2 separate regions of the Homo sapiens genome follow, and region 1 is linked to region 2. The links come from fine-mapping of genetic effects on gene expression. Tissue or cell type: skeletal muscle. Region 2 holds a variant in brackets; the other region holds the start of a gene. All regions are shown on one strand. Distances are between the middles of the regions. Region 1 holds the start of HOOK1 (hook microtubule tethering protein 1). Region 2 overlaps FGGY (FGGY carbohydrate kinase domain containing).

The links.
Region 1: it holds the start of HOOK1, and the variant in region 2 is fine-mapped to the expression of HOOK1 in skeletal muscle (GTEx, PIP 0.99). The same link has a PIP of 0.9 or more in tibial nerve.

The regions. Positions count from the first base shown.
Region 1 is chr1:59,811,898-59,817,218 of GRCh38, forward strand. HOOK1 (hook microtubule tethering protein 1) reads left to right here and starts at 3,052. Exons shown (of 22, transcript NM_015888.6): 1 at 3,052-3,283. The coding sequence starts at 3,221. LOC105378758 (a long non-coding RNA gene) reads right to left here and starts at 2,969. Exons shown (of 5, transcript XR_947426.3): 1 at 2,865-2,969. RefSeq lists a silencer at 2,520-3,119 and an enhancer at 3,356-3,919.
Region 2 is chr1:59,759,672-59,764,998 of GRCh38, forward strand. It overlaps FGGY (FGGY carbohydrate kinase domain containing), which reads left to right. Exons shown (of 16, transcript NM_018291.5): 16 at 2,832-3,059. The coding sequence ends at 2,913. Among named protein-coding and RNA genes, the nearest start is that of MIR4711, 29 kb to the left of the region's middle. RefSeq lists an enhancer at 3,082-3,131. The variant T/TTC (reference allele first, on the strand shown) is at 2,967.

The DNA of each region.
Region 1 (5,321 bases), 52 kb after region 2:
TTATTTATTTATTTATTCAAGGTAATGACGGGTTCTCTCTATGTTGCCCAGGCTGATCTCAAACTCCTGGACTCAAGTGATCCTCCCACCACCTCAGCCTCCCAAAGTGCCGGCATTACAGGCTTGAGCCATTGCACCTGGCCCATATATTTATGTATATGTTGGGATCTATGCTGTATGCACAGATTGCATAATGGCTTTTTTTCTTAACATTATGTGATAAGCATTTTCCTGAATAAACTTATTTTAAAATATTTTAATGCCTATGATACATTTCATTGTTTAAATATAACTTACTGTGTTTAATCACTTCTCTTTCAGACATTTAATAGCTGTTTCTTTTCCTTTTTGCTTGATAAATAGTACTGCAATCAACAACTTTGTTGGCATATGATTATTTTCTTAGAATAGATTCTGAAAGTGAACTTACTGGCTTAAAGACTTTGAACATTTTAAAGGCTCTTGATATATATTGTCAAAAAACTTTGTACCCATTTATAATCCCACAGCTAGGGTTTAAGAGTTAGTTTCACTCAACTCCCCAAACATGGATGCCAACTTCTAAAGAACTGATGCCAATTTAATAGTTGGAAATGATAACTTATGTTGTATTTGGCATTTCTTCTAAAGTCTTTTTTTCTGATTATAAAGTAATATAAGCTAATTGTAGAAAGCCTAGAAAATATGGAAGATTAGAAAAATAGTCATTTTTCATTTGTATATAAATATAACAACAGTTTTATGATTATTCCTTTGTCTTCTTCCTGTGTATATATTAAAATACATACCTAATATTTATAATATTGAGGTCATATGGCTGATACTTTCATCTAAATTTTATTTAATAGTATACATTGTGACAACTTTCCTGAGTTATCAAATATTCTCCAGAGCACTGAATCTGCTGTAAAATATTTAGCCTTCCTTGCTTATTGGGCATTGTATCAATCGATTATACAATTGATCAATACATAGCATTGCCATACATATCATTGTTCAAAGCCTCCAAATGCACTTCTGATGATTTCAACAGAATTTATGACTGACGCAGAATAAATTGGAATCATGGGTTTAAATGATATGGATATTTTAAAGTTTCTTGATAAAAATTGTTAAATTTTTCCTTCCCTGATAATTTACTCTCTATAAAGTCCAGAAGCATAACTTAATTGCCCCCCCCACCAAGTTACTCTCACGAATTATTTTATTTGAGAAATTTGGTCACTTGTGGCTCTCAGTGATAAATATGTTGAGAAGTTTCCCATATGTATAGATGATAATAGTAACTCATATTTACAAAGTTTATAATTTACATTTACCATGTATGTTTACATTTTAATTACAATGATCTTAGGAATGTGGAGGTTGGGGGCTATAGGAGAGCAGCCAGTGGGGAATAAAGTCAAGATTCAGACCAGGTCTTCAATTCCTAAATCTTGTAGTTTTAATTAAATCACATTACCAATGTACCTAGTTCCAGCATATAAAGTGACTCCAGAGGCGTTAAGAAAGTTCTGGAATAATGTTAAGGGAGTCAATAGCAAACGTACATACTGTATTTTTAGAATGAGACTGATTTACACTTGGGGGCTTTTAATTGCAGTCGTCCATCAGTTTTAAATTTTCAGTGTCTAAATATAAAAACGCAGCAATATAAAAAAAAGCCAGCTGTTTTCTTACTCAGAGCATGAATTGATGAGTTTATGAATGAGTGAAGTGACAGCAAGACTAAGAATAGTCTAGCCCTTTTCAATCACCTAAGCCATCTATCAATACCTTGGAGAGCTTCCAATTTCAGGTCACCTCCCCCGACCCCCCTCCACCCCACAACATTCTCGGAAAAAGCAAATTTTCAACTGACAAAGGAAAATGGATACATTAATATCTTCCATGTTTTTCAAAACATTTCGTTTATTTTGCTACTTGAAAACGGTCTTCCCTTTTGCCCCATGTAAAATAAAATTGCTCATGATCTATGGTCCCGTGAGAGCTTATTTAAGGAGCACTGACGGATTCTATTTTCCTTATTAATGTGGCATATTTGCCACGTGTGCAAATGAAAACATCCCTTTCCAATGAGTGCCTAGGAGGAAATCAGCTCTTCCTTCCTCGAAGAGTTTTAATTCATGGGTATGATCTATTTCTTTCTTTCTTTATTTTGTTTTATATATTTTTTAGAGACAGAGTCTCGGTTTTTTGTCCAGGCTGGGGTGCAGTGGCATGATCTCGGCTCACTGCAACCTGTGCCTCCCGGGTTCAAGCGATTCTTCTGCCTCAGCCTCCTGAGTAGCTGGGATTACAGTCATGTGCCACCACCCCCGGCTAATCTTTGTATTTTTAGTAGAGAATGGGTTTCGCCATCTTGGCCTGGCGGGTCTCGAACTCCTGACCTCAGGTGATCCACCCGCCTCAGCCTCCCAAAGTGCTAGGATTACAGGCGTGAGCCACCTCGCCCAGCCGGTAGGATCTATTTCTGAAGACAATGTGGAAGCAGAGTGTGGGCCCTCCACAGGTGTAGCGAGGCGGCGTGCTACCGCGAAGAAGGAGGGAAGACGCCTGAGCCCAGCCGGTGCCCTGCTGCCCCTCTGCCTCTTCGGCCACTGGGGCTGAGCTTCAGCCTTACCAATCCCCGCCGCGCACGCGCGCTCGCTTCCCGCGCGCAACCTCCCACCCCCGCCCTCACTGCACCTGCCAGGTCATAAACCTCTTCCCACCCACTCTCACTCTCTACCCAAGGCTCAGGCTTGTCTCACGTTGATTGGCCAGAGCCCACGAGGGCACGTCCAATCAGCAATCCCCCCTGCGCAACCTATCCCGGTTCTTCCCGCCCCCGCCCCGCCCCGCCCGCCCCCCCGGGTACCTACCGTCTCTGTGACTGGTGCGCGGCCAGGTCACTCAGGGCGGCGGGGCGAGGTGTGCGGGAGTGGGCAGGACGGGTGGGAGGAGGGGAGGGGTGGGAGAAGGCGGGGCTCAGGTGCCTGGCAGCGCGGCCGGGGCCCAGGAAGGGGAGGGGGCGAACGCTGGAGCGAGGCGGGGGCGGGTGAGGAGGGGGTGACGCCGGACGCGTCGACAGCGCGAGGGTTCGCGCGTGAGCTGCGCGGGTCGGGCCTGGTACCGAGCTTTCCTGGGGGCTAGCAGGTCGTGGACGCCGGCTCCTGGAGGAGAGCCGGTAGGAGGGAGTGTGAAGGTGTCCGCGGCGTCGTCGACGGCGGCGCCGGCCATGGAGGAGACGCAGCCGCCGCCGCAGCCTAAGCTGCCCCTGTGCGACAGCCTCATGATCTGGGTGAGTGCGAGGAGGCGAGAGGGCGAGGGGGCCAGGGGGCCGAGGCGAGGAGCCTGGGGCGCCCGGTTCTCCCAGGTGAGCTGGGGCTACCTGCACAGGGTCCCGGCGCACCCTGCCCTTCTCACCTCGTGCCCTTGACCGAGAGAATGCCACCTGCGGGTCGACGGGCAGGTGTGTGGGCGCGGGTTGGTGTCCGGGGGTGGGGGTAAAGGAAGCTCTGGGAGCGTAACAGTGGAGGCTCTGGTCTCAACCAGAGGATTCGACCTGCCTGGTGCCCTAACAGCTGGGATATGAACCAAGCACCCATCCTCTTTTCTCCCCGCTGCCCCATTTTCTCCCCCTGAACAGCGCCCGAGCCCTCCACTTTCTGGATCGCCGACTCTCTTGCCTTGGTCCGCTTGGGCGTGAAGACCCTTTCCGAAACCTAACCCTGCATCCTCAAACTACCTTGCTCTACCTGGACACAGGTGGCCAGGAGGTGGCTGGCTGTTTTAGTTCCCGGACCAATGCTCCTTCAGGACTCTAGAACATCCGATTTTGTAGAAGCCGCTTCAAAGAGATGTTTGTATTTCCCGTATGGAGAAAAAGATGTGTTGGGAGTCGGGGGTCGTTTTCCCTTTTTCTCGCTGGCCCTCTCCTCCTCTAAATGGACAGCATTTTCTTTAAAGAAAATGAGTTGACATTTTTCTTTAGGATTTATCTGTGTTTAGGATTTTTGTTAATTTGTGTTGGGTCTGGACAGGCATATCTGTCCCCAGATTGTTCAATATTCCAGTCAGCAAAATGACATCCCACCTCTTAGAGTTACTTAGATATCAGTGCTGGCATTCAGGTGTGGTTCTTAACCCATATTGAGTAAAGATGGTGTTTGATGAGCCACAAGGTGCTGTTGATGATGCTCATCCCAAACCAGTTGTTTAGTTGCGTCTAGGGGAGTGTGTGCAGATGGAATGTAAACAGACGGGATCAGGAGGCTGTAATCGGTTGAGATTCCCTAGTGATCTAATGCATCTAATTCCAAAGAATGAGAAATCTAGGTTTATGGAAATGTGTGAAGCCTATTGGAAATAGCCATAATTTAAAGCATTTACACTTTGTAAGTAAATAACTTTTGCTTTTAGTGGAATGCAAATATTTAGGGTTTGTGAGTTAAAAGCAATTAGCTAACTGTTCAGCTGAATTTTCATTTGAAATAGGTATTGGGGTGGAAGTGCTGTATTTAAGACTGTCGTAGAAACAAGGCAACATTACTTTTAATGATTTGTTTTGTTAAAACAGACTAATTAAAGGGTGTATCCGAATCTGCTACATTATTGTAAACCTCAATTGACTGAAGTGTTAAGCTTAGTCTTTATGATGTCATTGATTTACATGTGAGGTGGTGGAGAAGCACAGGATTTTCTTTTGTGTTGTAATATTTTAAAATATTATGTGACTGTATCCACTCTTTTAACCAGAATTTATTGACTTCCAATGTTGAGCTAGGCACTGGGGAGGACTGGAGTGGTAGCCAGAGCTGTGTGTAATTACAGTGGAAGGTAAAATTCCGTAAAAGCTGCAAATATGTTGTAAACCAAATGATAAGGAATCACAGATAACAGAGTAAAATTGGTCGTTTTCTTCAGTCCTCTCTTGGGCTGCTGAGCACTGTGGAGAAAATTGAATGACCGTGCAAACTGTTGCCTCTACTAATGCTGTTACTGTCAAACGCACCTTTTCTCCTAACATTGCCCATACTTAAGAATAACCAGACAGTTTCTCTCACATTCCTCTTAGCAAACCTTTATCAGTATTCTACCTGAGCCCCCAACTCTTATTCCTCTGGGGCAAATGACCACCTCCTTATCCTTGGCTCTGGCTTTAGACTCCATCCCTTCCACCTCTTTTAAAACGTTATTGTATCATTTGTTCCCTTTCTGTATTTACAACTACTTTCTCTCCATTGGCTCCTTTCTCTGTATGTATAAACTTGCTGAAGTATTCCCCTTTTTTAACAGAGAACAAAGAGCCACTATTCCGTGTTAAAGTCATACTGTAT
Region 2 (5,327 bases):
AGGAGAAGCCAGTTTCCTTCTGAGCCAACCTCATCTCATTGCCTAATAGATCACACTGTTAACGATGTGGGACGACATTTACTTAGGCCTCTGCCACACAGAAGCAGGGACTGAGTTGAGGCACATTTTGAAGAGAGGGGATTCAGCTGATTTTAAAATTCACAGTCACGGAGAGTGTAATTTAGTGACTATAGTTTAATAATAAATGTTTAGGATGACCCCAAATTGCATTATTATGTTCAGTCCAAATTTATATGTGGCTCTGGAAGAGTCACTTAAATGTGCTTTGAGAAATTTGGTGCATTGAAAGACACTATCAACAGAGTAAAAAGGCAACTCACAGAATGGGAGAAAACATTTGCTTATCATACATCCAGTAAGGGATTGATATCCAGAATATATAAATGTATAAAGAACTCCTAAAACTCAACAACAACAAAAAAGCAAAAACAACCCAATTCAAAAGTGGGCAAAGGACTTGAATGAATATTTCCCCAAAGAAGATTTATAAATGACCAGTAAGCACGTGATAGGGTATTCAACAGCACTATTAGGAAAATCAAAACTACCGTGAGGTACCACCTCACACATTAGGATGCTACTATTTTAAAACAGAAAACAACAAATGTTGGCAAGGATGTGGAGAAATTGGAAGCTCTGTGCATAGTTGGTGAGAATGTAACATAGTATCGCTGCTGCAGAAAACACTATGGCCATTCTTCAAGAAATTAAGAATAGAATTAACATGTGATTCAGGAATTGTATTTCTGAGTATATACCCAAAAGAACTGAAAGTAGGGTATGGAAGAGATATTTCTACATTCATGTTCACAGCAACATTATTCATGATAGCGAAAATCATGAGAGCAACCTAAGTGTTCATTAGTAGATGAACATATAAATGAAGAATGATATGTGCATACAATGGAGTATTATTCAGCCTTAGAAAGAAGCAATTTCTGACATGCCACACATCAGTGAACCTTGAGGATATTATTCTAAGTGAAATAAGATAACCACAAAAAGACAAATACTGCATGATTCCACCTATGTAAAGAATAAGGCCAGTGCACAAAGTTGTGGCAAAGTTGTCAGTATTAACATTGTAAATCAAGTGTGTGTGAAGGGGTGCTCACCTTAGCTCCCTTCTAGATATTTTGAGATTCTAAAGTCAAGAAATCTATCTCATGTAGTGAAAGAATTCCTTACCGTTATATTGTCACAGAGCATCATTAGTAGGAGCAAATTGTTCCTAAAATAATTCTACAACTAATAAATTTGGATGCTCATAGAGTAGGTCTTAGTAGTACCTACATATAGCTATATTGATGATATTAAAATATTAATTATCTAAAATTTAGTAACTAGCATTTATATCACTTATTATGAGTCAGGTACTGTTCTAAATGCTTTTCATTTATTTCCACATTTAATCTACAACAGCTCTGCTGAAGTAGATCCCATAATTATCCCCATTTACAGATGGAGAAATTTAGGCAGAAATAGTTTAAGTAACATATCCAAAGTCACACAGCTAATGTTAGGCCACATTAAGATTCCAACCCAGGCTTTGGAGTTCGCCTTTTAACCCTGTGCTTGGCCCCGTCACAACTCCTACGTTACCAGAATGCTTACAGTCTAATAAATATTGGGTAGGGGACTCCTACTAACATAGCTATGTGTGACAAGTAGAAGTCCCTGTGTGTATCCAAGGTTACTCTTACAACCTCTCTCTGCCAATGCACAACTTTGCACCAAAATTTCATCATGAGGACTCCTTTTCAGAGCACCCCAGAATTGAGCAAGACATGCTAAACTGGCTTCTTCACCCCCTCACCCCATGTCAGCTTCCCAACCAAGAGGAGTAAGGACAAAGTTGCAAGGCTGCAAGTATAATTTGTCTCGGTTCCTATTATTCCTTTCAGGATTATGATGCCAGAGCAGCTTCAGCTGTTCTGCTGTCTGATTCATGGCCAATACCAGTTCTAACAGGTCTAACCCAAAGAGTCAGCCAGATAGGACAGGGAGAGCAACGGCCACTGTGAGATGTCTGGAAGGCGAGCACAGCTCTAGAAAAGGCATTAGCTACATTTCCATGGGGTTTTGCTCCTGGATAAAGCAGGTCACAAGGGAAACCTAGATGTGGAATCTGCAAAAGGGCAATTAAAATGTTCAGTCTTTGTCCTTGGTCAGGCTGTGATTTTAGGCCAGTCATCAAACCTGGGGCTAGTTATATAGGAAATACTTATTGAAGCTGGCAATGTGAAAGAGTCTCCATTAAGTCCGGCCTTTTTGTATATACAGTAGAAGCTTTGAAGTCAGACAGACATGAGTTTGAATTCCAGCTCTGCCAGTTTTTATCTATACTACTTTGTATATGCCTCTCATTTAGGAATTTTTTTTTTTTTTTTTTTGATGGAGTCTGGCTCTTTCACCCAGGCTGGAGCGAAGTGGTGCAACTCAACCACTTCACAGTGAACGGGGGACGGTTCACTGCAACCTCCGCCCCCCGGGTTCAAGCAATTCTCCTGCCTCAGCCTCCTGAGTAGCTGGGATTACAGGCGTCCACCACCATGTCTGGCTAATTTTTGTATTTTTAAGAGATGGGGTTTAAATGTTCTTATTTCTAAATTGGAGATAATAAAACTTCATCCAGGTCACATATAATAGGTCTGAAACATGCTAATTCATTGCCCAGGATGCTGTAAGCATTCAGAATCTAGGTGTCAGCATCACCACCACACATATATTTCCATTCTTCTAAATGTACAGGGAAGCCCTGTGGCAGTTTTGTCTTGAGATCATTCAACATATTTATATTTCTCCCACAGATACTATGATAAGAAATACCAAGTATTCCTGAAGCTGGTTGAACACCAGAAGGAGTATTTGGCGATCATGAATGATGACTGAACAGGGCTTGCAGGTGCTGATGCCAGAAGCTTCTGTGCCATTGCATTAAAGAC[T/TTC]TGTCATTTGATCCATGTTCAAGACCCTTGAGGTATTGTTTCATCATTTCTGTATTGTCTTTCAATAAAGAAAACAAACATGTGCAACCAGAATTAGAGTCTTCATTTCAAAATACCGCTATTATTTAGTTTCAGTTTCCATACAGTCTCCATTATAGTAACAGAAGTTTCACATAGGGTCATAGGATCTCACATGAGACTAGACCTTGGGGGCTATTCAATCCAGGGAAGGCCTGTACTTTTTTTTTTTTTTTTTTGAGACGGAGTCTCGCTCTATCGCCCAGGCTGGAGTTCAGTGGAGCGATCTCGGCTCACTGCAAACCCCGCCTCCCAGGTTCACACCATTCTCCTGCCTCAGCCTCCTGAGTAGCTGGGACTACAGGCGCCCGCCACCGCGCCTGGCTAATTTTTTGTATTTTTAGTAGAGACAGGGTTTCACCATGTTAGCCAGGATGGTCTCGATCTCCTGACCTCGTGATCTTTCCGCCTCGGCCTCCCAAAGTGCTGAGATTACAGGCATGAGCCACTGCGCCCGGCCAGGCCTGTACTTTTTAATCAATTAAATGTCAGCTATTAAATGAAAAACTTACATTACTTTAGGTAGGACATCTAATGCATAGTCGATGTCTTTTATGGCATTTTCCCCTCCTGTGCAGGATCTAGTCTAGGGTCAGATACCACATTTATTTGCAGAATTGTAATTTCACAATCATCATATTAAAGACAGGTATAGGCAGGAATCATCGATGGATCCAGGAGGGAATTTTGAAGAATAACAGGATATATGCATAATCTTAAAATATCTCTTCAGAATTTGCTTATTAGTTACAAGAGGAAAAAGAACGTTAAGTATACAGGGAAGAAATAGGACAACATCTTGATTAGGTGATCCAAATCAACTTCAGATGGGCAAATGGACATTGTGTGCCTCCAGATATGAGAAAAGAAAGAGCATTTTAATGCAGAGCCTGAATCTAATCAGAAGGAAACATCAGACAAACGCAACATGGGAAGCATTTTATTTTTTAATGGACTATATTTTTCAAAAATATCTATGTCATACTGACAAAGAAAGGCTGTGGGAAGTTTCCAGATTAAAGGAAACTGAAGAAACCTGATGGCTAAAAGCTTTTGATGTAGACAAGCACTGGGAAAACTAGCTGTTTTAGTTGATACCACAGCAGACACACAAACGCACACAGACATACACATACATATACATACATAAATATGTCAACACCCACACATAATTTCAGACCCAAGAGTAACTGCTAACGTTGATTTGAGAGCTGTCATAGCTCAAATGAGTGTGGGTAGAGGACATGCTAAGACTTCAGCAAAAGACAGCAGGTAGAGAAGAAAAAGCCAATATAATTCAGTAAATAAACATCCTCTGGAGTACTTTGTGCCACATGTTGTGGTAAGCACTGGTCTACAGGAATAAATAAGACATGGCCCCTGCCTTCAGGAACCTCCCTGTTTAATGAGAGACATAGACAAATAGATTGATGACAGTACATTATGAGAAATGCTACAATTACAAAAAAAAAAGTACCTGCTGCATGGAGCCCATCAGTCAGAAAAGGAGGAAGGAGAAGGTGGGATGAAAAACAATATGGTGTAACAGCTATGAGCCCTGGCCTGGGATCCTAGGCCTGGTCTTACCTCTTACTAGATGGGTGACTTGGAGAAAGGTCCTTAATCTTCCTAAGTCTCAGTTTCCTCATTTTGAAATGAATAGGTATTGAATATGAATATGTTTTTTTTGTTGTTGTTGTTGTTGGTTTTTTTGTTTTTGTTTTTGTTTTTGTTTTTTTGAGACGAAGTCTTGCTCTCGCCCAGGTTGGAGTGCAGTGGCTTGATCTCTGCTCACTGCAAGCTCCACCTTCCAGGTTCACGCCATTCTCCTGCCTCAGCCTCCCGAGTAGCTGGGACTACAGGCACCCGCCACCACGCCCAGCTAATTTTTTGTATTTTTAGTAGAGACGGGGGTTTCACCATGTTAGCCAGGATGGTCTCGATCTCCTGACCTCGTGATCCGCCCGCCTCGGCCTCCCAAAGTGCTGGGATTACAGGCGTGAGCCACCGCACCTGGCCTGAATATGTTAATAGTACCTACTTTACAGGATTATAATGAGGACTAAAGGAGATAATGCATATAAAGCACTCGGCTCAATTGCATGGTCCATGCCTGTGTTATTACAGGGCTCTGCTCCTAGAAGATGCTCAAAATAGTAACTGTAGTAAGCATGGAGAAGGGTGAGCACCCCAGTTATGAAGGTCAGCTCTGCAATAGCATTCTACAGTATCCAAAGGATATAGGGACCTTAGGCATAGCCCCGAGTGAAGGTGGGTGTGCGT